Linked DNA regions of Homo sapiens. The protein of the gene in region 3 interacts with the protein of the main gene of each other region in a biochemical or structural test. Each region holds a gene or a part of one and is shown on either strand. Other genes may lie near its edges.

Region 1 (7,038 bases), on a different chromosome or scaffold from region 3:
AAAACGGGCACAAGACAGGGATGCCCTCTCTCACCACTCCTATTCAACATAGTGTTGGAAGTTCTGGCCAGGGCAATTAGGCAGGAGAAGGAAATAAAGGGTATTCAATTAGGAAAAGAGGAAGTCAAATTGTCCCTGTTTGCAGACGACATGATTGTATATCTAGAAAACCCCATTGTCTCAGCCCAAAATCTCCTTAAGCTGATAAGCAACTTCAGCAAAGTCTCAGGATACAAAATCAATGTACAAAAATCACAAGCATTCTTATACACCAACAACAGACAAACAGAGAGCCAAATCATGAGTGAACTCCCATTCACAATTGCTTCAAAGAGAATAAAATACCTAGGAATCCAACTTACAAGGGATGTGAAGGACCTCTTCAAGGAGAACTACAAACCACTGCTCAAGGAAATAAAAGAGGATACAAACAAATGGAAGAATATTCCATGCTCATGGGTAGGAAGAATCAATATCGTGAAAATGGCCATACTGCCCAAGGTAATTTACAGATTCAATGTCATCCCCATCAAGCTACCAATGACTTTCTTCACAGAATTGGAAAAAACTACTTTAAAGTTCATATGGAACCAAAAAAGAGCCCGCATTGCCAAGTCAATCCTAAGCCAAAAGAACAAAGCTGGAGGCATCACACTACCTGACTTCAAACTATACTACAAGGCTACAGTAACCAAAACAGCATGGTACTGGTACAAAAACAGAGATATAGATCAATGGAACAGAACAGAGCCCTCAGAAATAACACCGCGTATCTATAACTATCTGATCTTTGACAAACCTGAGAAAAACAAGCAATGGGGAAAGGATTCCCTATTTAATAAATGGTGCTGGGAAAACTGGCTAGCCATATGTAGAAAGCTGAAACTGGATCCCTTCCTTACACCTTATACAAAAATCAATTCAAGATGGATTAAAGATTTAAATGTTAGACCTAAAACCATAAAAACCCTAGAAGAAAACCTAGGCATTACCATTCAGGACATAGGCATGGGCAAGGACTTCATGTCCAAAACACCAAAAGCAATGGCAACAAAAGCCAAAATTGACAAATGGGATCTAATTCAACTAAAGAGCTTCTGCACAGCAAAAGAAACTACCATCAGAGTGAACAGGCAACCTACAAAATGGGAGAAAATTTTCGCAACCTACTCATCTGACAAAGGGCTAATAACCAGAATCTACAATGAACTCAAACAAATTTACAAGACAAAAACAAACAACCCCATCAAAAAGTGGGCAAAGGACATGAACAGGCACTTCTCAAAAGAAGACATTTATGCAGCCAAAAAACACATGAAAAAATGCTCATCATCACTGGCCATCAGAGAAATGCAAATCAAAACCACAATGAGATACCATCTCACACCAGTTAGAATGGCAATCATTAAAAAGTCAGGAAACAACAGGTGCTGGAGAGGATGTGGAGAAATAGGAACACTTTTACACTGTTGGTGGGACTGTAAACTAGTTCAAGCATTGTGGAAGTCAGTGTGGCGATTCCTCAGGGATCTAGAACTAGAAATACCATTTGACCCAGCCATCCCATTACTGGGTATATACCCAAATGACTATAAATCATGCTGCTATAAAGACACATGCACACGTATGTTTATTGCGGCATTATTCACAATAGCAAAGACTTGGAACCAACCCAAATGTCCAACAATGATAGACCGGATTAAGAAAATGTGGCACATATACACCATGGAATACTATGCAGCCATAAAAAATGATGAGTTCGTGTCCTTTGTAGGGACATGGATGAAATTGGAAATCATCATTCTCAGTAAACTATCGCAAGAACGAAAAACCAAACACCGCATATTCTCACTCATAGGTGGGAACTGAACAATGAGATCACATGGACACAGGAAGGGGAATATCACACTCTGGGGACTGTGGTGGGGTGGGGGGAGGGGGGAGGGATAGCATTGGGAGATATACCTAATGCTAGATGATGAGTTAGTGGGTGCAGCGCACCAGCATGGCACATGTATACATATGTAACTAACCTGCACAATGTGCACATGTACCCTAAAACTTAAAGTATAATTAAAAAAAAATAGAAAAAAGAAAAAAAAAAATTTATTGAAGGAATAAATGATTACTCAAAATACTTGTTTTGAGAGGCCGAGACTTAATACTATCTGGACGAATACAAAAATCAGTTTTCCTGTTATCCTTGGATTGGGCAGGTGGTTCTCATCAAGCCCCAGAATTTCATTGTAAGTTCTATTTTGTGTATGAGGATCACTTAGCAAGGATTAGGGAGTAAAGTATCCTATTAAAAATATGATTTGCAGAAACTTAAAAAAAAAAACAGGTTGAAAAAAGACCTGCATCCAACTTTAACATCTTGCTTTTTCAAAACAATTTAAATTTGTTATGTATGAGAAAGAAATGGAATACAGCTCAAGAAAGAGCTTATTATGCTAAAATTCTCTGATTGGCATAAATCAGAGAACCTCATCCGAAAATAAATGTATAGAAAAAAGCGGCAGTCAATGGTTCTCAACTAGAAGCAATTGAAAGGGGTAGAAAAGGAGGGATGGTTTCGAAATGACTGGAGGACTGCTACCAGCAGTTAGTGGATGTGAAACAAGCATGGTGTCCTGTAACATGTGAGACAGTCCTAAGAGCTCCACTGAGAAACAATGCAGGTGACTAACATCCCCAAATACCTGATGCCATTTCTTCAGCTTGTTTTTCCTTCTCCTCTTCTCTTTTTTCATCTTCAGCATTAAGAAGTGCTGACACAATATCATTAACTGTTTTATAGTTCTCTCCAGTTGTCAGGATTTTACTTTGAACTGTTTGTTTCACCAGGTCTCTATTAAAGCCCATTTCCAAGGCAGATTTAACCACAGGTGTATTCATCATGACAGCATCTTCTGAAGAACTTTCTCCAGGTCCAAAATGAATAACTATTTGAAAAGAAACATGCTAATATTAAATTCCACAAACATAAACCTATGGAAAAAAGTATCATGGCACAATCTTTATTCATCCTTTACTCTCATATTCTGGTAAAGGAGATGAGCTATATGCATCGATTACCTATAACTCCAATAAAAGTTTGAACTTCATAATGGTCAAATGAGAATACAATTAATATGCTATACTTTTTACAAAACCCACCTCTCTGGCTACATCCTAGACTTACTTAATGAAAGATTCTCTAAGGATAAGAATTAGGAATCTGTATCTTTTGAATATTTCCCAAATGATTCTGATGTATAGTCATTTCTGGAAACCAATATGCTATACGAACTTAGAAGTGAGAAATAATCTTCTCCAGCCAGGAAAGTGGGGGGAAATCACAAAGACTTCATGGAAAAGTGGCGCATTAGAGTTTGGACTTGAAGGATGGACAGGGTCTAGACAAGTGGATTGCTGAGGTAGAGAGAATAACATAAACAAAAATGGGAAGTATAGTAAAATAGAAGATCAGTTCACCCAGAAGATGTAGTGAAAAAGTATGGCTTCAGAAGTAATTAAGGCAGTATGATTTTAGACAGTGACAGATGCTCTGAAGAAAAAAGTAGTGTAAGGTCATTAAAAGAAACCAGGAAGCAGGAAGTCATTTTAGATAGGGTAGTCAGGGAAGCATTTTCTGCTAAGAGTCAATGCTAGCCCATATGATACTTTTATGAAAAAATACAAAAAGACATAATTCTTCAAGACACTACTGCCATCTTCTGGAAACTTATAATAAATATACAACGTCAACAATGTCCCCTCTTGTTCAAACACGCGTGGAATCCGTGTCCGAAGAAATGGCACCAGAACAAAGATTTAAATAACAAGGAATGAGCTCTATTTCATTTTTAAGCGCATGCCTTGAGGAAATACTTTATGTTCAAGATAAGAGACACATTAGAGGATCATTACAGCAATATTTACAGCAGAAAAAAAAAAACAGAAAATAACAGGAATAGCTCTCAATAGGGAATGGATAAATAAAATGCAATATATGCTGGACTACTGTGAAAAAATTTAAAAATATACAAACGAACTAAACTGGTATATACCTAGCCCATGCTACTGAGCTCTGGGTATTAGAAGTTAGAAACAGAACTGTATGTAAGCATCAGAGGGGAATTTGGCATTGCCTACAGCATTTAGTTTTCTTTCCCTTATGAAGAATGTATACATCTATTACATGTAAAATTATTAATACTGGGGGGAAAAAGGAGTGAGCTATGGAAATATCTCAAAGAAGTCTTCTAAGCAAAGAGAACAGCAAGTGTAAAAACCTTAAATTGAGGGAAAAGCTTGACATGATCAAGAAACAGAAAGAAGGTGGTAGAAGGTAAAAAAAGGAGGACAATGCCCAGATAAGCAGAGGCTTCCTAAGAGTTTATATTTTATTCTAAGTTTGGTAGAATATTCTAGGAGTGTTTCAAGCATGCAACTGATAAAACTTGACTTGTGTTTTCAGAAGATGACTCTGGCAGCTCGGTGGAGATGTTACTTTAATGGGGTAAACCAGAATCAGGAAGACTTGTTAGGATGTTAGACACAGATGACGGTAGTTTGGATTAGGTTAATAGTGGTGGAGGGCCGGGCATGGTGGCTCATGCCTGTAATCCCAGCACTTTGGGAGCCAAGGCGGGCGGATCATGAGGTGAGGAGATCGAGACCATCCTGGCTAATCCAGTGAAACCCCATCTCTACTAAAAAAAAATACAAAAAATTAGCCGGGCGTGGTGGTGGGCGCCTGTAGTCCCAGCTACCTGGGAGGCTGAGGCAAGAGAATGGCGTGAACCCGGCGGGTGGAGCTTCCAGTGAGCCAAAATTGCGCCACTGCACTCCAGCCTGGGCAACAGAGCAAGACTCCATCTCAAAAAAAAAAAACAGTGGTGGAGATGGTGAGATGTAGTCAGATTTGGCATATGTTATGAAGACAGAAATGAAAAGACTTCTGATAGATTAAATATACAAACTAAAGGAAGGAGAGGAATCAGAGATGATGCCTAACTTGAGCCAACTTTTAATGCTGGGAAATGAGTACCATTAACTGAGATGGGGAAGACCAAAGAAGGAACAAATCTGAGGGATGAAGAATGGGGAAGAAAATTTCCGGTTTGGTCATATTAACTCTACAATGTCTGTTACAGCCAAGTAGAGATTTAAACAGTTAGCTGGACATTCCAGCTTGGGGCTCAGGAAATGGAGAAATAAATTTAAGCTGAGCTATGAGGGGTACTCCAACATTTTGAAGTTTGAAAAAGGAGCAGCCAACAAAGGAAATTGTTCAGGACCAACCAGGGAAATAGAAAACCAAGAGTATGGGGTCTGATAAGTCAAGCAAAAAATGTGTCTTAAGAAAGATGAGGCCAAATGCAGTGGCTCATGCCTGCAATCCCAGCACTATGGGAGGCCGAGGCAGGCAGATTGCTTAAGCTCAAGAGTTTGAGACCAGCCTGGGCAACATGGTGAAACCCTGTATCTACAAACACACACACACACACACACACACACACTTAGCTGAATGTGATGGTGCATGCCTGTAGTCCCAGCTACTTGGGAGGCTGAGGTGAGAGAATCACCTGAGCCAGGGAAGTTAAGGCTGCAGTGAGCCATGATGGCACCTAACCACACTACAGCCTGGGTGACAAAGTGAGACCTTGTTTCACAAAAAGAAAAAACAACGACAAAGCACCCAGTGATTATCAAATGCTAATTAACAGGTCAAGTAGTGGATTTGCTAACACGGCAGTCCCTGGTTACCATGACAAGAACAGTTTCTAGCAGAACAAGTGAAAGAATGAAAGGTGAGGAAGTAAAACAGAGTTAAGCACAGATAAATCTTCCTAGGTATTTTGTTGTAAAGGGAAGCAGAGTAATAAGGTAATAGCTGAATGGGGACATTCATTCATGGAAATTTTCCTAGGATTAGCAAAAGTACATTATGTTTATATGCTAACATGAGTGATTCAGGAGAGGTGGAAAAATTGAAGACTCGAGAGAAAGGGTATGTCACTGCCAAAGTAACCTTCTTAAGTTGACAGTAGGGGATGGAATACAGAGGACAAGTAGAAGTAATGGCCTTAGAAAAGGGCAAGGACAATTCATCTTTTATGAACAAACAGAAAAGTACAAGGATAAATTATGTAGCCTAGTGGTTTTGCTGGTGAGGCAATAAAGCAGCTCTCTTTTGGATTCTATTTTCTTAGGGAAGCAAGATTATAAACTGACAGTAAGGTGGGAAGAGAGTGTTAGAAAATTATCAAGACAGAAAACAAGAAACAGTCATTTTAAAGATTGACAAAGTGATTTTATTAGGACCTATGGTAGAACTGCAGGGCAGCCTACTTAATAGCAGTGGTTATAAATTTTAAGAACAGCCCACACTGCTATCTATCTTTTCTAGGTCTATTACACGGGAGATAGTTGTCATGTACCCAGGTACTCTCCTTCCTATTTTCCAGTACTCTCCTTCCTATTTTCCAGTCAAATACTACCAAATCCTTCATCCAATCCTCCTGAGCCATGGTTTCTAAGACTCATACATCTTGGTCACCTTTCTCTGGTCCAGTTAACAAATCTGCCAATCTTTCTTGAAATGCTGTGCCACAAACAGAATGGCCCTTTGTAGATGTGATTGGCACATAAAACGGGATTACTACCTTAGCCATTTTAGACACAATAACATATGTATATTACATAAATTGACAGATGTGGCTAACATTAAGCTCTAATCAAAAGCTATACTATTTCCTGCCCTTGCACTGAAATACAACATACCTGACTTAAATACCTAACATCTAGTCCAATTCTTGAATCATATGTGAATTGACGTTTTCCAAATCATGCCAACTCACAGCAAACTCTTCTTTTCTGGAGGGTTTATTATTTGCACCGCTTATTTGGCATTGCTTTGAACTATTTTTTGTTTTTCTTTTGCTTATGTCTCATTTCTCCAGTTGGAATGTCAGCACTAAAAGTGATAAGTATAGCACTAGAACAAAAACTAGTACACTTTTAGGGTCCTCCACAGTGTCATTACACTCT
Region 2 (3,673 bases), on a different chromosome or scaffold from region 3:
GGCAGCTGTGAGCAGCCCCCTACTCAGGCACACTCTGGGTGGCTGTGGGAGCAGCAGCAGTCCCAGGCAGCCAAGGCCTGGCCTCAGGAGCCCAGCCCAGCCAGTGGGGCAGATGGTGAGGGCCAGGTTATCTTTAAATGGCACCTTACTCAGCCTGCCACTCTGCCAGTTGGGCAGGATGGCGGTAGACAAGTGTTATTTTGGGATCTGAGGGCAAGGGAGGAAGGCTCTGTTTATAGCTCTCTCCTTTCTGAACCTACTCTCTCTCCTGGGGAGGATTTGGGGCCATGGGCCTCAGCCCTCCAGCTGACCCTTTCCAACCTAAGGTTTCTGTTTTCAGCCTAGCTGTTAGCCATCTGCACAGATGGGAGTGTTGAATCTACAGAGGCACAGGGTTTCTCAGAAAGGCCAGCTCTGTAAAGGCAGGTTTAGGTGGTGACAACTGCATTAGACTTGGGATCAGACTAATAATAGGTAACATTAACACTTACTATGAGGCAGCACTACGAAGTGCTTTGTGTTATATTAACTTTATTTAATCCTCACAATCACTCCATGAAACAGATAACTAGTATTACACTTGTTCTGTGGATTAGGAAATGGAGACATAATTTAAGCAGCTTGTCCAAAGTCACCCAACAGGCAAGTGGCAAAGCCAGGGTTCAAATCCAGGCAGTCTAGCTCCGGAGCCCATGCTCTGAACCACTAACTAGATATGAGTCCTGCTCTGCCACTTACTGGTTCTGCAAACTTGAAGGAACCACTCCCCCTCTGGTCTTGGCTTCCTCTTTTGGAAACGGACTACCGTTCGGTTCAACCCACTAGAATCCCCAAGTTAGAACTGGCAGAGACACTCTGATCCATTGTGTCTCTCTCCCTGTTCAAGGGAAAAAGAACTTACTCAAGGTCACACAACCGGGCACTGGCCCTAGTTTCTGTGCTCTTGCTGTGAACCTCCCTGTGGCAGGGATGAGTCAGCGGAGCTGACGAGGGATATTAGTTATGAATTTGCAATCACAAAATCAGGTGTGGAAGAAATACATTTATTTTCTTTTAACCAAAATAGATGAGAATGAGTCTCTATCCTGCTACCTGGTTTGTTGTTATTATGGTTTGTTCCCCTCTCCAGAATCACGAAAAGGTCCTGGGGTCTCACACAGTGCAAAACATTGAGGTGAGCCCTCTAAGCCTTGGTCTGCACAGGTTCTGCTCATACATGCTCTTAAGCTTGCAAATTCAGAAGTGTTGGTCTGTGTGCCCCAGGTACAAGAGACCTTCCCAGGGAGCCTTGGTGACCAGGGCCCAGCATCCCTGGGGACTCCATGCAGCCTTTTCCCTAGGAAGTTCTATCATCTCCAGGTGCTTTGCCACAATCAGGGCAGGAGTCTCACCGCTCATAGGCCCCGTGGACTTTTTTGTCCCCTACTTATCTTTTGGAAAACTACCCCCCTTTTTCTCTCCCCTTCTTCCTCCGGGACCCTGGGCCTAATTGCAGTTCACTAGAGCTTTCACCATAGGGTCCAGAAGCACAGCTATTCTCATGCAGTCCTGCTGTCCACCCTACAAAAGCAACTAAGGCAAGGAAATGCAAAGAATTCAGGTATGTTCTTGGACTAAGTTGTTGGGGGGGGGGGAATCTAGTGAAAGCAAATTAATACACCGATAGTTTATGTCACACAGCTAACCACAGAAAAACTGCTTAGTAGGTGGAAGGCAAGAGCTGGGCCTACCACCTGTTTCTATCATGTTCCTCAGGCAGGGCTGCAGTGCTACAATTCATTCCTCAGAGCTGTCCTCCCAAAGGCTCACCAAGACCCTAATTTAGCAGCAGCATGTGTGAAATTGAACTGAGTCACAGTGTAATCCAGTGAGTCAGGAAGAATGAGCCAAACATAGCTCCCAGCTATGGGTGGGGGATAGGATGGGACATCTTCCACCACTAGAGGTGCTTTAATGAAGTCATCCTTAATTCTAACTACAATCCTGTGAGGTAGGTATTAGTTCCCTATTTTACAGATGAGGGAACCAAGGCTTGAAGGAAACGTCACTTGCCGCAGCTATGTAATCATGCCAAGTCAGAACAACTCAAGCCTGGGAGGGACTTCTAGGCCTCCTAGTCAGGCCAGTAGTTCCTCATTGCTTTTCTTCCTACAGCACATTTGCTACCATATCATGTATTCTACACAGGTTTAAAAACCCTAGTATACTTTTCAATTTTAGGAAGCCAGCAGTAATGCCACCCTTTTCCCAGTTACTCAAAAAAGGAAAAAACTGGAATGTAAGTGTCATTAGATGGCAAATGTTGACCTGTACCATCCATTAGGGAAACTTAAATTCACAAAACTTGTTTTTTTTTTTGTTTTTTTTTTTTTTTGAGGCAGAGTGTCGCTCTGTCGCCCAGGCTGGAGTGTAGTGGCATGATCTTGGCTCACTGCAACCTCTGCCTCCCGGGTTCAAGCAATTCTCCTGCTTCAGCTGCCTGAGTAGCTAGGATTATAGGCATGCGCCACCATGCCCAGCTAATTTTTTTGTATTTTTAGTAGAGACGGGGTTTCACCATGCTGGCCAGGCTGCTCTTGAACTCTTGATGTCGTGGTCCGCCTGCCTCGGCCTCCCAAAGTGCTGGGATTACAGGTGTGAGCCACTATGCCCGGCCTACAAAAATTGGAATTTTATTGCGATTACTTTTGGGTGCTTTGCTACTGGAATCTTGGTAAAGTATGGTTAAGACCTAGTCTAAATCCCCGTGAGAATGGGGAATTTTCCCGTGACTGCTAACTAAAGGTCTAGCCTCTGATCGAGCACTTGGATTGATGAGGAGGAACTCACTGCAACATTTTAAGACAATTCATTCCACAGCTCTCACTTTTGGAAAATCCTTACTTGTCAGTCTTTAAGTCCTACTGACTTTATCTTGTCAACATCTCTAATCCAGCTCTTCCACCCTATCCCCTCTAGTTACAACCTTAGTTCAGGCTCTGGGTTTTCCCACCTGGACTGCTGTAGCTGCTGCCAGACTGCATTCCTTTCTCCCATCTCCCACCCCTTCAATCCAGGTTCCAAGTCACCCTTCTAGTCACATTTGCATCAACACTGCAACACTTTTCTAAGACACAAAACCTGATCACTTCCCTGTTTAGTTATCTTGGGTAGTCTCCCATTCTCTAGAGGAAGCAGGTCTTGAAGGATCCTTCACAATCTGCCCCCCACTTGTCCTTCCAGCTTTATTTCTGGCCAGGACTCCCGTGAACTTAAGCATAAATATCAGTACTTGTAACGTGCTTATAAGGTCTGAAAATGAAATTGTTTCATGACGGCCTTTTCTTACTTTTTCTCTGCAATGTCTTACCCCACTCTCATCTGCCTGGCAAATGCACAGGAAAGGCAAAACAAATAGGCAACAAGTACAAGCTGCTTGGACTATAATCACACACTTGCAGGGTGACCTTTGATAGGTTAACAATATCTGTCTGCTTCAGTTTCATCAATCTGTAAAACTGGGTGAGCAAAGTGGACTACTTTGTAAGGTTAGTAGGTGGTCTGAGGTAAAAGTATTTAGCATACCCACTGGCGTTTAAATACTCCAGAAGCAGGTATTGTTAGCTCCTTGCAAGTGTTCAAGGGTTGCCTTCTCCATGCAACTTACCCGACTTCCTCCCCCAGGTTACCATTA
Region 3 (7,038 bases):
CGAAAAAGGGGGGGGAAAAAAGAAACCTAGTAGTGTATCAAAGGAGCATATCAACAATTATTTTTAAAGGCTTTTAAAAACTATTCTCCCTTTTCCAACCAAATACCTGTGTGAGGCTGTATTGTCTTCTTATACTTCCAATGAAACATCTTAACTCCATAGACTGAAGGCAGAAACAGCTATGAAAATCCAGTTGACTTCTAAGACGGCAAAAATGCGGCCAGGTGCGGTGGCTCATGCCTGTAATCCCAGCACTTTGCGAGGCCGAGGTGGGTGGATCATGAGGTCAGGAGTTCAAGATCAGCCTGGCCAACATGGTGAAACCCCGTCTCTATTAGAAACTACAAAAATTAGCCGGGCATGGTGGCACACACCTGTGGTTCCGGCTACTAGGGAGGCTGAGGCAGAAGAATCGCTTGAACCCGGGAGGTGGAGGTCCAGCCTGGGCGACAGGGCGAGACTCCGAAAAAAAAAAAAACAGATGGCAAAAATGCTGTTCTTCCCATTATATATTTTTTATTTCAAATAATTATTTTCATTACAAAATGTCACTTAGGTTAACATGTGATAGATTTTCTAAACGAATAATTTTACATTTCTCAAGTTTTTCAGGTGAAATTATACATTTTTAAATGTGAAAAATAAAATAACATCTTAGCATTATTTACTGTAAAAATATAGTAAATAACAATAGATAAAAATCCACATAAAGCTCTGTAGAGTCACCAATAATTTTTAAGAGTGTAAAGGAATTGTGAGACCAAATACTTGAGTACTGCTGATTTAAATAAAATATCATACATCCACGCAAGTGACTACTATGCAACTATTAAAAAGTTTAAAAAAAAAAGCTTAACTGTGTGGTAAAGTTTTCCTAAAATTGATATGAAACCCAGAAACCACTGAGGAAAAGCAGTATTTGCCTACATGAAAATTAAAGACCTCTAAAAAAAAAAAAACCATACAATTCCACAGACAATGTTAGAAGACAAATGATATGGATAACCTGTTTCTTTCTGACTTAATACTCCTCCAACTTCCCTGCCTTGGGTGAGTTAGCACTCTAATATAAAATGCTTGGAAATAAACTTGAAAAGATATTCCATAACTTGTTAGCTTGAAAGTAGGGGAAAAAAAAGATAATCCAAAAGAAAAAAAATAGAAGAACTGAATAATCTGTCCTCAGATAAAAACCACAAATCATCAATATGAAAATATTTTGAAACTTCAATTTTAAAATGCAAATTGAAAATACTGAAATTGTTTTCCCAAATCAGACTGGGACCAATCTGATTGGCAACAACTTAAAAGACTAATCACATGAGTTAGCAAGGATATAGAAACCAGGAACTCTCAAACTGTTAAGTCTAAGCCAATAAAACAGAATAATGTGGCAGTATCTGCGCAAAGGTTGTTAAAGGGTAATCTTTGTTCTAGGAGATCTGAAATTTTACCCTATATATTCACACAAGTGCACAATTATGTAAGGATGTAAATTACAGCACTGTGTGTAAAAAGAAAAATCTATACAGCCATTAATGTAAACCTAATAAAATATATGGTGGTATATCAATATAATGCAAGACGGTGGTTTAAAACAATGAGGTAAAATATGCACATACAAACAGAAAAGTCAACTGTATAGACGTATGTATTAAAAAGTATACATATGTGCATTTAATACTTCTGGAATACAAACCAAATTTAACATTGACTACTCTGGGGAGTGAAGAAAGTAAAATGCAAGAAGTAAATAATGAGAAAACTGCCAAAATTGGAGCCATAAAACATAGTATTTTTCCAAATGATACTTGCTATTTTACACAAAAAGTAGAATTTATAGAGAAACTGAAGTCCCCAGAGACTTCATTTTAAGATTTAAACTTTTTTTTTTTTTTTAAACTGATGAGGACACTTAAGAATCCCTTCTTAGACTCCATTCAAGCTGTGAGGGATATATGCCTTGTTTACTTCTCCCCACAATAAAAGTGACACCAAGAACTAGGTTCACAGACAGCTAGAAGATATACAGTTTGTTTCATATCACTGAAAAAAATGAAAAAAAAATGTGGGTTTTGGTGCTACTATTAGGTTAAACTATATAAGACTGCCTCTAACGAATTGTTCAACCTAATACATGTGGTACATTGCTTCCCTGAGGAAGGATTTTATCCTTTATAGACTGTTTGACCTCTGATGTCCCACTAGCTGAGAATCTCCATTGTCTAAAAAACTGATTTGTTCCTCACTGGAGGATATACTGAACCAAAGGGTCTCCTATGAGAAAACTGCATACAGCATATTTGAACTATTTATTTCAGTAGGTCTTCCATGATGAATAAAGGAAACATTTAAAAAAATTGAGATCATAAAAAAATTTTAATAAATGAAACAATTATAAATAGACTTGTGGACTCTTTTAAGTAGAGAGTGAATGGTCTGCCCTAAAAAAAGTAAATAAAAACAAAAAAAGACAAGAAATGAACTGAAATACTTCAAGAACCTCAGAAGTTAATTCCAATTTACTTTCCTCTAGATTGTTACAATGTTTCTGAACTGCCATTTTCTTCCCACCATCAGCATTCAGTGAACTCAAGTTAATTCTCATATACCCCAGAAAATAAATAAAAACAAACCTACTGGAAAGGAGTGGGAAGAGTTGGGAAAAGCCATATAATGAACTAATACTCAATTTCCTGTTACACTATTAACTATGAAAACTTAACTAATTTTAATCTGTCCCCTTTTCTAGTCTCTCACTTACAAACCAACCAACCTTCAAACTCCACATTCCCTGGCTCTCGTTTCTCATTCTCAGTCCAACTTCAAGTCACCTGTTCTTACTCTATACATCTGTATATCTCCTATTCACTCTTCAAACTGCCCTAATCTCTTTTTCCATGTTTTATGGAACTACTCTATGGAACCTTACTAAAAAACTTTTTCCCAAGTCAGCACGGACTTTTTTAAAAGTGTTCAATCCAATGGATATTTTGACATCTTGCTTCATTTGACCTTTTTAGCACATGTGCTGTAAACCACCCTATCTTAGAATAAACCACCTTCTTGGTTTCCATGACCACCACTGTCTCTTTTTTTTTTTTTTGAGATGGAGTTTCGCTCTTGTTGCCCAGGCTGGCAGGCAATGGCGCGATCTCAGTTCACTGCAACCTGCACCTCCTGGGTTCAAGCAATTATCTCACCTCAGCCTCCCGAGCAGCTGGGATTACAGGCGTCTGCCACCATACCCAGCTAATTTTTGTATTTTTTAGTAGAGACGGGGTTTCACCATGTTGGCCAGGTTGGTCTCAAACTCCTGACCTCAGGTGATCCGCCCGCCTCCGCCTCCGCCTCCGCCTCCTGAAGTGCTGGGTTTACAGGCGTGAGCCACCGCGTTGGGCGACCACCACTGTCTTTGTATGTCCATCCTTCATAGGCATTCTTCTTCAACAAAAGCCTCCTATATGATGCTAGTATCCCCGGTCTTTGTCCTGAGTCAAGTTCACTTCTCCTTAAGGGAACTTATTTACTAATGTGGCTTCCATTATGACCAATACTTTTCAAACTAATCTCTCACATAGCTCCTTTTGAACTCAAGACTCACACATAAAACTGTCTGCTGGTCATGGGTCATCCAAGTGAAAATAGAACCCTCAACCTTAGCATATCTAAAACTAGTCTCATAATCTAACTTTCCCTTCAAACTTGCCCCATTCACAATTTACCTTGTGGCCTAACTCAGAAAACCTAGGTGTTAGAAAGCTTACCTGTTCTGTAGGGGATGTTTAATATAGTGTTCTGGGTTAGCAACCTCCTGATTAGATTCCGTTTTCTCCTCTTCTGTAGTCGGGGGATTAGGAGTAGGGGTGGTTTCCTAGTGGAAAATAATATAAAACATTATTTTAAATGTCTTAACACATCTATGACAGCAATATTCTAACTAAACCTGAACTGATATGCTGATAATTTTTTTTTTTTGAGACAGAGTCTCTCTCTGTTGCCCAGGCTGGAGTGCAGTCGTGCGATCTTGGCTCACTGCAACCTCCTCCTCCTCCCAGGTTCAAGCAGTTCTCCTGCCTCAGCCTCCTAAGTAGCTGGGATTACAGATGTGTGCCACCATGCCTGGCTAATTTTTGTATTTTTAGTAGAGACGGGGTTTCACCCCGTTGGTCAGGCTGGTCTTGAACTCCTGACCTTGTGATTCACCTGCCTTGGCCTCCCAAAGTGCTGGGATTACAGGCGTGAGCCACCACACCCGGCACTAGTAGTATTTTTTAAGAAGAAGGAATTAAAGCAGATTGCTTCATAAAACAGACCACAGACCAAACTCTAAAGAACCATTCTCTATTCTCATATCTCTTCATTAAGAGCAAAGAGCAAACGGTTTCTCAAATTTGAAAATATAACAGTATTTATAGTTATCCTTCCACTTGCACTTTTTTTTTTAAATAGCAGGAAGACTGTCACAGACTATGCAACAAAGTTGGGAAAATCTTCTATCTTTCTTAACATACCATCATATTAAGATACTGCATATGGTACTGAAGGGGGTATCAGGAAGGATACAGGATGGAAACTAAAGTTTCAAGAGTATAACAACTGTATCACTGGGCACTGTGGTGCGTCTCTACAATCCCAGCTACTCGGGAGATTAATAGGAGGATTAATAGGAGGATTGCTTGAGCCCAGGAGTTTGAGACCAGCCTGGGCAACACGGCAAGACCCTGTCTCAAAAACAAACAAAACAAAACAAAACAACATTATGATGACAAAAAAGCTTTGTAAAGTGATCAAGCCAATGATGCGCAGGTCTTACCTTCATGGCATACTGTTTACCCTATCGTAACCTAAAAGTTCGGCAACTTAATATTTTCAATGGAACCTAACAAGATGGACATTGGCTTGAACTTAAATCTTCTTTTAGGCTAGACAAAATTAACACTGTCATCTAAAAATATCAGAAAGAAAAGTAGTCTGGGGGCAGTAATTTAAAATAGGTGTTCACCACATTCTTCCATGTAGCTCTTCATACTATCATAAATTGTTGTCAACAAAAGAAGAGAGCCAAAGAAAGGCACTAGGACAAAGACTGATACCAAAAAAAGGGCAATGCAACAAGTGTTTGGATATCAGACTGAAGCAGCAAACAACAGAGATCTATGTTAACATAACAAGATATGTAAGTCAAATATTTATTGTCTAAAAGAATGCAGAGCAGAAAGGTGGTAAATATTTATTTGAAAGAATATGGGTTTTTTTTTTTTTTGTATTTTATTTTTCTTAGAGATGGGGTCTCACTCATAGCTCACTGCAGCCTCAATCTCCCTGGCTCAAGCAATCTTCTTGCCTCAGCTTCCACGGTAACTGGGACTACAGATAGGCACCATGATACCTGGCTAATTCTTTTTTATTTTTAGTAGAGACAAGGTCTCACCATGTTGGCCAGGCTGGTCTCAAACTCCTGAGCTCAAGCAATCCTCCCACCTTGGCCTCCCAAGGGATATGTTTTTTCTTATCAACATATGACATGTACAAGAATTTCTATTAGCCTATAAAGTCACCCAGAACGGAGACCATGTCTTGATTTTACTCAATAATCACAGTACTTAACCCAACAGGAACTTATTAACTTGATTACTTAACTGAATAAATTTAAATGTTTACACAGAATGATTAAGGCCTGAAAATTGACATACAGTAAGTAATGCCTTAAAACCAAACATTTTTATCAACATTTACTTACCAGTAAATTTAAGTGTTCAAACAGATAATTACTGAATGACATTTCCTATCCCACTAGCTTAAAATTAATGATGGGTTTCCAGGCAGACAGTGGGAGTCTCGATGAAAACAATGAGAGACTGGCAGGCAGGTAGGCTTTGGGGGACAGGGTACCAGAGAAAAACTGCTGTAGATGAGAAGTGGGCTCCTCAATATATGTAAAAATCCCTCACAGGTTTTTGGCTAACTCCTAAACTGGCACTTTCAGAGCGTAACTCTGGTTGGCCTAACAGAGAAGAACAGCTAAGCCAAAACTTGCAACTGCCCAGTATTTGTGAAACGTAAGCAGAACGGGTGCAGGGACTTATGTCTGTAATTGCAGCACTTTGAGAGGCCAAGGCGAGAGGACTGCTTGAGTCCAGGAGTTCGAAAACAGCCTCAGCAAGTGAGACCCAGTGAAGAAAGGGGAAGAAAGAAAAAGAAACAATCCTCTTTCTCTCTCTCTCTCAAGTCTTTGGACATACAGGAATTAAAAGCAAGTTATCACTCAGGAAAAACATATTCAGTTCCTAGAATTTTAAAGTGTTATTTTGAATTAAAATAAAAGTCCCACTGTAAGTAACTGATTACTATAGTCTTCATATCAAGAACACATAATCGGCCGGGCATGGTGGCTCACGCCTGTAATCCCAGCACTTTGGGAGGTCAAGGCAAGTGCACCACCTGAGCTCAGGAGTTCAAGACCAGCCTGGCCGACATGGTGAAACCCCATCTCTACTAAAAATGCAAAAATTAGCTGGGCGTGGTAGCACGCGCCTGTAATCCCAGCTACTGGGGAGGCTAAGGCAAGAGAATTGCTTGAACCCAGGAGGCAGAGATTGCAGTGAGCACAGATCGTGCCACTGTTCTCCAGCCTGGGCGACAAGAGCAAAACTCAGTCTCAAAACAAAACAAAAAAGGACACATGATTTTGTACTTTTCCAACAACTTAAAAAAGGAGCTACACATTTTTAAATATGTGTGTATGTATGAATCAGTAAGTATACTAATTTAAAATCTTTAGTCTTCACTTTTAAACATACTAGATTTTAAAACGAATGATGTGAAATACCATAAAAATTTTTATTGGGCATAGACAGTCATCTTTTCGTATGATCTATATGGGAACTAAAAAATATTTCAAGAAACAAGTTCTATTTTAAGGTATCTAACCTTATTTTTAAGATTGCTTCCTATAGACACTAAATAGTTTTAAGTTTACATTCAGTTTAAAAACAAAACTCTACTGCAAAATCCTACCATATTCCTCTCTCTACT
Region 4 (7,038 bases), on a different chromosome or scaffold from region 3:
CAAAAGATTTTTGTTTCTAAAAAGTAGAAAATCAAGTTCAATCAATCATGACATGGCCTACATTTAAGCTGACTTTTATACTCTCCCCACCGGGGAAACTCTGGAAACCAAGGTGTATCACAAGGCCTTGAAGCCTTACCTGGTAAGGCCCAGTTACCCCCAGCTTTTCCTGTGTCTACAGTTTGCCAGGACTCCTAGGAATTCAGGCACATGGGAGAATACATTCCTGAATCAGGATTTTATCATCAACATTGCCTGTGAGACATAGGCAATTTCAAAGTTATAGTGAAATGCAAACAACTTTTAATACTCATCTCTGTCAAAAGGAGGATCTTTGATTTATTTATTTATTTATTTATTTATTTATTTATTTATTTATTTTTTTTTTGAGACGGAGTTTCGCTCTGTCGCCCAGGCTGGAGCGCAGTGGCGCGATCTCGACTCACTGCAAGCTCCGCCTCCCGGGTTCATGCCATTCTCCTGCCTCAGCCTCCCGAGTAGCTGGGACTACAGGCGCGCGCCACCATGCCCAGCTAATTTTTGTATTTTTAGTAGAGACGGGGTTTCACCGTGTCAGCCAGGATGGTCTCGATCTCCTGACCTCATGATCCGCCCGTCTCGGCCTCCCAAAGTGCTGGGATTACAGGCGTGAGCCACCGCGCCCGGCCGGATCTTTGATTTATGAAGACTCATTGTTTATCATCAAAGTTACCAGTAGTCACTAAAAAAAAAAAAAAAACTTTTGCTATTTGCAGTGTCAGGCATTTTGTGCCACAAGCTGAAGGCAACTGGTTCCCTTTTTCACCCACAGGATTAAAAAATTCCAGGAATGAGAGAAAACTAAGTTAGGCTATTATGAGACCTATGGCAATAATCCCCTAGATGTGAAGCTAGTCTTGTTTTGTTTTTTTTTTTTAAAAACACAAAAACAAAAAAACAAGATTATACTTTTTCTTTAGCCCTCATTTAAAATAAAGAGTAAAATAAATATTGCTTTTCCCCGCTTTTCTTTCCCTTAAGACAAAAAGAAAAGAGTGAACAGATTAATGACTTCTTACTCATTTAGCAATGGAAAATAGACCAAGAATTCAGGAACATCCACAACACCTTCCAAGTTGAAGTCATATTTGCAGCCAAATAAAGGATAATCTCCTTTCTTCTGAAATTTCACAGTATATATTTCATTTCCAAATGATTCTGTTTCTGAAGCTTCAAGGCGTCTTCTATCAAGGTTATCCCCCAACCAAAATAAAAAGATTAAAATTGTGATTAGTGTAGACTTATTTTGATCAGATTATGCATGTGAAAAACTACATGATGCACACTTGATTAGCCTTTTAATTATATCTGGGCTACCTTTTTTTTTTTTTTTTAAAGTGACAAGGTCTTAATCTGTCATTCAGGCTGGAGTGTGGTGGTGTGATCATAGCTCACTACAGCCACCAACTCCTGGGCTCAAGTGATCCTCCTGCCTCAGCCTCCTGAGCAAGGACTACAGGGGCGTGCCACCATGCTGGCTAATTTGTAAATTTTTTGTAAAGACAAGGTCTCACTATGTTGTCCAGGCTGGTCTCAAACTCCTGGCCTCAAGCAATCCTCCTGCCTTGGCCTCCCAAAGTGCTAGGATTATAGGCATGAGCCACTGCACTCTCCTGATTTGAGCTACTTTTAAGAAGCAATATACTAAAAGATCACCAACAGTCACACCAATAAAATTAAGCTGGAAGTAGGTATCACTCTCATGACAGCTGGTTCATCTCTGTGCCTGTGTATCTGACCTGCAGTTTGTCTATCACTATAACTTCAGTCTCTAACTTACACACAAAGATGAACTGTTAAAAGTTCACCTGTAAATTTGTCTATTGAATTTAAATTTTGAATGTCTACTCAAATATCTTATGAAAGTGTTCAACACTTATAAGATTAAAATAGCGTATTTTAATAAAATCTACCTCTGATAAACATTTGCTACTTAATACTGAATATTTTATAAACCACAATATATTTAGAAGTACTTACATCAATTCAAAGCTATTGGGAGTAGTACCAATAAAATAGCCCCCAGGGCTAAGTCTCTCACACGCATTTCTCAGCATCATGTCAGCCTGCTCATAAGACTCAAATGAGTAATGACAGACAAACTGACAACTGCAGATGTCAAAACACATTTGTGGGTCACGAAATTTGTCAATCAGAAGTTCCTGAAACAAATTAAAATGAGTTAAGATTGTGAGGTAACTACAACAAAGATTAAAAACTTTTTAGTAAATTAACTTCTAGAATGTAAGGTTCTTCCTTTCCCTCACAATCTTTCCCTTGTACAATAAAGGACACACAGAAATCATGCATGTATTCTAGTTTAACAGAATAATTTGATTCCCACTTTCACAGTATTTAAAAACTGAGGAATTCTGAAATCATGTTTAAAATATATTAGTCAATTATGACATTTCAACTTGATCCTTTCATCACTTTACTTGACAGCTAAAATAAAATGACATTCAACAATAACTTGAGTTAAAAAACATCTGGCGTTTGGCATTTTTTAAAAAATGCAAAAATGTTTTAAAGGTATTACAACTTTCTGGCAGTATACTCCCACTTATCTTTTTCACTTTCAAATTTCAAACAAAATGTGTATGATTAAAGGTATCTATAACAGTTCAGTGAGTCAATAAGTCAATGAAGAACAAAAAGTTCATGGTGAGACTTTCACCCTTGAAGCAGTTCTTTTTAAGAAATTCAGAAACAGGTGGAAGGTAGGAAAAAACCAAACAGGCTCTGATATGTTGGGAAACTAATAAATTACAAGGTGAACAAAACATAGTATAAGTTCAGTTCTATTTCAAAATACTGGAAAATAAATGATGTCCATACCGAAAAGCAACAGCTAATTTCAATTCAAATTATTAAAAGCAAAAAATTACAAGTATTCAGTGAGTCATTCAAGGGAATTTATCATAATAGAATTTCCAGTCAAAAGTGAAAATGCATATTCCAAGATTTTTAAAGTTTCAAAACACATTTTAAAAAATGAGTAGCCGGGCACCATGGCTCATGCCTGTAATCCCAGCACTATGGGAGGCAGGCAGATCACCTGGGCTCAGGAGTTTGAGGCCAGCCTTGGCAACATGGCAAAACCCCATCTTTACAAAATATATAAAAATTAGCTGGGTGTGGTGGCATGTGCCTGTAGTCCCAGCTACTCAGGAGGCTGGGAGGCAGGAGAATCACTTGAGCCTGGGAGGCAGAGGTTGCAGTAAGCTGAGATCGTGCCACTGTGCTCCAGCCTAGGTGACAGAGTAAGACCCTGTCTCAAAAAATAAGAGTAAATTTTTTTAAAAAAGTAAAAATTGAGTTGATTTTTAAAACAAATTATTTACCCAAACTAAAAATGTAAAAAATAAATTGACCAAAGAAAGAAACTGTACCTTTGAGCTGTCAGCAGTTATAAATTCTGCACTGAAAATATATTCACTATCACGACGATTTTTCATGTCCTCATACCGCTGCTGACACTGTTTGACAGAAACATCGGCAATATCTGGAAGGATGGAAGGGTATTAGTAAGTATCAACACAGAATGCCAGAAATCTAGACATTGATCTCAACTGACAAACTCTGGCATAAAAGTCAGCCTTAGTACCAGTGAAAAGGTTTTATTTCCTTTAAAAGAAAAGAAAAGGGCTTTGTTCCGACGCAAATACCCTATCAGTTTTCAAGAGGAACTAAAAGCGTCTCAATAGGTACGGACGCTATAAAAGTTCTATCATGATTTTTAAATGCTTATTCAAAGTAAAAAGGAGAAAGTTTTATTCCAATCTGAATTATAAAACCTAACACTATCAATAAGCCCAGTTTTGGAAATACCAAGGGTATATTTTTATAATAAAATGTTATTAGCCCTTTTCTTTTTTTCTTTTTTGAGACAGAGTCTTGCTGTATTGCCCAGGCTGGAGTGCAGTGGTGCAATCTTCACTCACTGCAACCTCTGCCTCCAGGGTTCAAGTGATTCTCATACCTCAGCCTCCCGAGTAGCTAGGATTATAGGTTGTGTGCCACCATGCCCAGCTAATTTTTTGTATTTTTGGTAGAGGATGGGGTTTCACCACATTGGCCAGGCTGGTCTCTAACTTCTGGCCTCAAGTGATCCACCCTCCTTTGCTTCCCAAAGTGCTGGGGATTATAGGCATGAACCACTGTGCCCAGCCTGCCCTTTTCCCTGTTTAAAGATTCACACTGATAATGCAAAGGCAATGGGATCTTATCACAAATACAAAGTAGCAGCACTAAATGGTACTGGCAGTACTTCATGTATTCTTCACCACTATACAATATGCAGGGGGAGAAAAACAGTTTCATTTAAGAATACCCTTTATAAAATAGTGAAAATTAATTTTATTAAACCTGGGCTTTTGAATACACACTTTTTAAAATGTTGTGTGATGAAATGGGAAGTAACAAAACATTTCTGCTACCTAACAAAGTATGATGGTCATCTTCAAGAACAGTACTGATATGACTGTTCTGAGTTTTGAGCTGTACTGGCCACTTTTTTTCTGAGAAAATTATTTTGACTTGAATGACTGACAAACTACGGTTATGCAGACTTCAGTACCTGGCACATATTTTCTTGAAAATGAACAAAGTGAACCTGTCACTTAAAGTTCCCCAACCCTTGGGCGACAAACCAGTACAGGTCCACGGCCTGTTAGGAACCAGGCTGCACAGCAGGAGGTGAGTGGCAGGCAAGCTAGGTTGCATACTCCTTATGAGAATCTAACACCTGATGATCTGAGGTAGAATTCCATCCCCCCGCTTCTGTGGAAAAACAGTCTTCCATGAAACCGGCCCCTGGTGCCAAAAAGGTTAGGGATCGCTAATTTAAAGGGAGACAAGGGACAGTGTATTTGTTGCCAAAAATAAAATTGACTTTCAAATAAGAATTACAACCCTGAAAAACTCGTATTGATCACTGTGGGCTGGACTTCTTCCCAATACTTTTCTGATTGGCAGTGATATTAAACACGTGATTTTTTGATTCTCAACAATTAGATCTGCATAACTTTAGTGAACAGTATTTTCCAAGTACTATAAAATCATGCAGGAAGTGCAAGACAGATTAATGGATTTTAATGTTACACGGTATAAAAAGTTCATCACTAAGGTTTCAGATTCCATATTGTAACTACTCTTTAAGAAACTACCACTTACTGAGTTTTGATGTAGTAACAGAGGAATATCTACAATTATCAAAAAAGGCTATTAAAATACTTCTTTATTTTACAACTACTTATCAACCAAAATAAAATCACAACATATTGGATGCAGAAACAGGTGTGAGAATCCAGTTGTCTCCTGCAATTTCAAACTCTAAAGGGATTTACAAAAATGTAAAAGCCAGCCTTGTTACTTTTAATGAACTAAAAAATATTTTCAAAATTCTCAGCTTTAATTTCCAATATAGTAAATATCAGTAGCTACTTACCATAATTACATACAAAAAAGCTTTCTGGGGTCCTCAATAATTTTTAAGTATACAGGGCTCATAAAACCAAAAAATCTGAGAACTGCTAATTTGGGCAGTACTTCAGTAGTGGGGGTATGTATCTCTTTTAACTCACCACATCAGAAAGACGCTGACGTCTGCTTGTCCCACTTCAGTGTTAAGACTAACCACCGGGCTAAGGTGATTGATTGATTGATTCATTGCGTTACTATCGACTTTTCCCTTAATGGCTTCCGTAGCAAAAAAAAAAAATTATTGCCTAGATCTATTATTTCATAAAGAATGAAAAAAATTATGATTTTCTAATTCTATAATTCCTCTTTATCTGATTGAAAAAAAAAAGGAACTGCCCTTTTCAACCATCTGATTACAAATGTTTGATTTCCTCCCCTTAATTTATAAGTTTCAGAATAGTTTCTTAGCAACCTTCAAGGGTGAACAATGTGTTTTTCTGATTTGATGTGTCCAACTGCTATTTTTTTTTTAATGTTAAAATTGCCCTATTTTTGCCAATGGAAACCTTTTCAAGTCTGCCCTTTAGACATGACTCCGACCATCTTTGATAGCTTCCTTCCTTTTGGGAAGGAAACGTTATCCCAGGCTTATTAATCTTACTATGAAACTATCAGGAAAGTCTTGTAACTAATTTTTTTTTTTTCGAGACGGAGTCTTGCTCTGTCACTCAGGCTGGTGTGCAGTGGTGCGATCTTGTCTTACTATAACCTTCACCTCCCAGGTAAAAGTGATTCTCCTGCCTCAGCTTCCTGAGTAGCTGAGATTACAGGTGTGCACCACCATGCCCAGCTAATTTTCTGTATTTTTAGTAGAGACAGGGTTTCACAATGTTGGCCAGGCCGGTCTCAAACTCCTGACCTCAAGTGATCCACCCACCTCAGCCTTCCAAAATGTTGGATTACAGGCATGAGCCACCGCGTCAGGCCGTAATTAATTTAAAAAAAACCCATCTCATGCATAGTCCCAGATATCTTGCAATTTGAGACAATCCTTCTTATTTTCCATTTATCTGACTACAAATTATTCTTTCCCATATCATTATTTATCTTACCAGTACAAACTAGCTTGTTAATTCTTCCTTTTTTCCATTTCAGCAAATCTCCACCTTTACCACATCCCAGGTCCAAAACAGTGATATCACGTTTTTTCTTCTGTCGTACCTTTTCCAAAAATTCTCCTAAAAGAGAGAAATCAGTCACAATAAACTACCTCTTCTTCAATTTTACTGAAGTATAAACTGTTACCTCTAATAACCTACTATCTTTTGCCCAATATGTAACATAAACTATTACACATCCATTTATGTAATTTGTAACTTCTGATAAGTAACTAAAAATATGACTAAGAGTTGATTAATCTGATCCTCTATCATTAAAGAGTACGTGTCTGGTGTTTTGGAAAATAAAGGCAGCATTTTGAATGTTAACTTTCAAAAATGAATTTTAAATAGCAGATATTTAAAATTCTAATATAAGACAACACAACACTTGTTCAGGATGAGAGAAAAAGCTAAG

The links.
Region 1: the proteins of EIF4E (region 3) and BIRC2 form a complex in vitro, tested with the Homo sapiens proteins (one study listed by BioGRID).
Region 2: the proteins of EIF4E (region 3) and IPO9 form a complex in vitro, tested with the Homo sapiens proteins (one study listed by IntAct).
Region 4: the proteins of EIF4E (region 3) and RNMT form a complex in vitro, tested with the Homo sapiens proteins (one study listed by BioGRID and IntAct).

What each region holds. Positions count from the first base shown.
Region 1 is NC_000011.10:102,364,213-102,371,250, reverse strand, and holds part of BIRC2 (baculoviral IAP repeat-containing protein 2), read right to left. Parts: intron 2,946-7,038; coding exon 2,703-2,945; intron 1-2,702. UniProt on the Homo sapiens protein: Multi-functional protein which regulates not only caspases and apoptosis, but also modulates inflammatory signaling and immunity, mitogenic kinase signaling, and cell proliferation, as well as cell invasion and metastasis.
Region 2 is NC_000001.11:201,881,133-201,884,805, reverse strand, and holds the end of IPO9 (importin-9), read right to left. Parts: 3' UTR 515-3,673; downstream 1-514. UniProt on the Homo sapiens protein: Nuclear transport receptor that mediates nuclear import of proteins, such as histones, proteasome and actin. Serves as receptor for nuclear localization signals (NLS) in cargo substrates.
Region 3 is NC_000004.12:98,898,109-98,905,146, forward strand, and holds part of EIF4E (eukaryotic translation initiation factor 4E), read right to left. Parts: intron 3,875-7,038; coding exon 3,768-3,874; intron 1-3,767. UniProt on the Homo sapiens protein: Acts in the cytoplasm to initiate and regulate protein synthesis and is required in the nucleus for export of a subset of mRNAs from the nucleus to the cytoplasm which promotes processes such as RNA capping, processing and splicing.
Region 4 is NC_000018.10:13,736,673-13,743,710, reverse strand, and holds part of RNMT (mRNA cap guanine-N(7) methyltransferase), read right to left. Parts: intron 6,702-7,038; coding exon 6,576-6,701; intron 3,545-6,575; coding exon 3,432-3,544; intron 2,202-3,431; coding exon 2,020-2,201; intron 1,224-2,019; coding exon 1,059-1,223; intron 1-1,058. UniProt on the Homo sapiens protein: Catalytic subunit of the mRNA-capping methyltransferase RNMT:RAMAC complex that methylates the N7 position of the added guanosine to the 5'-cap structure of mRNAs. Binds RNA containing 5'-terminal GpppC.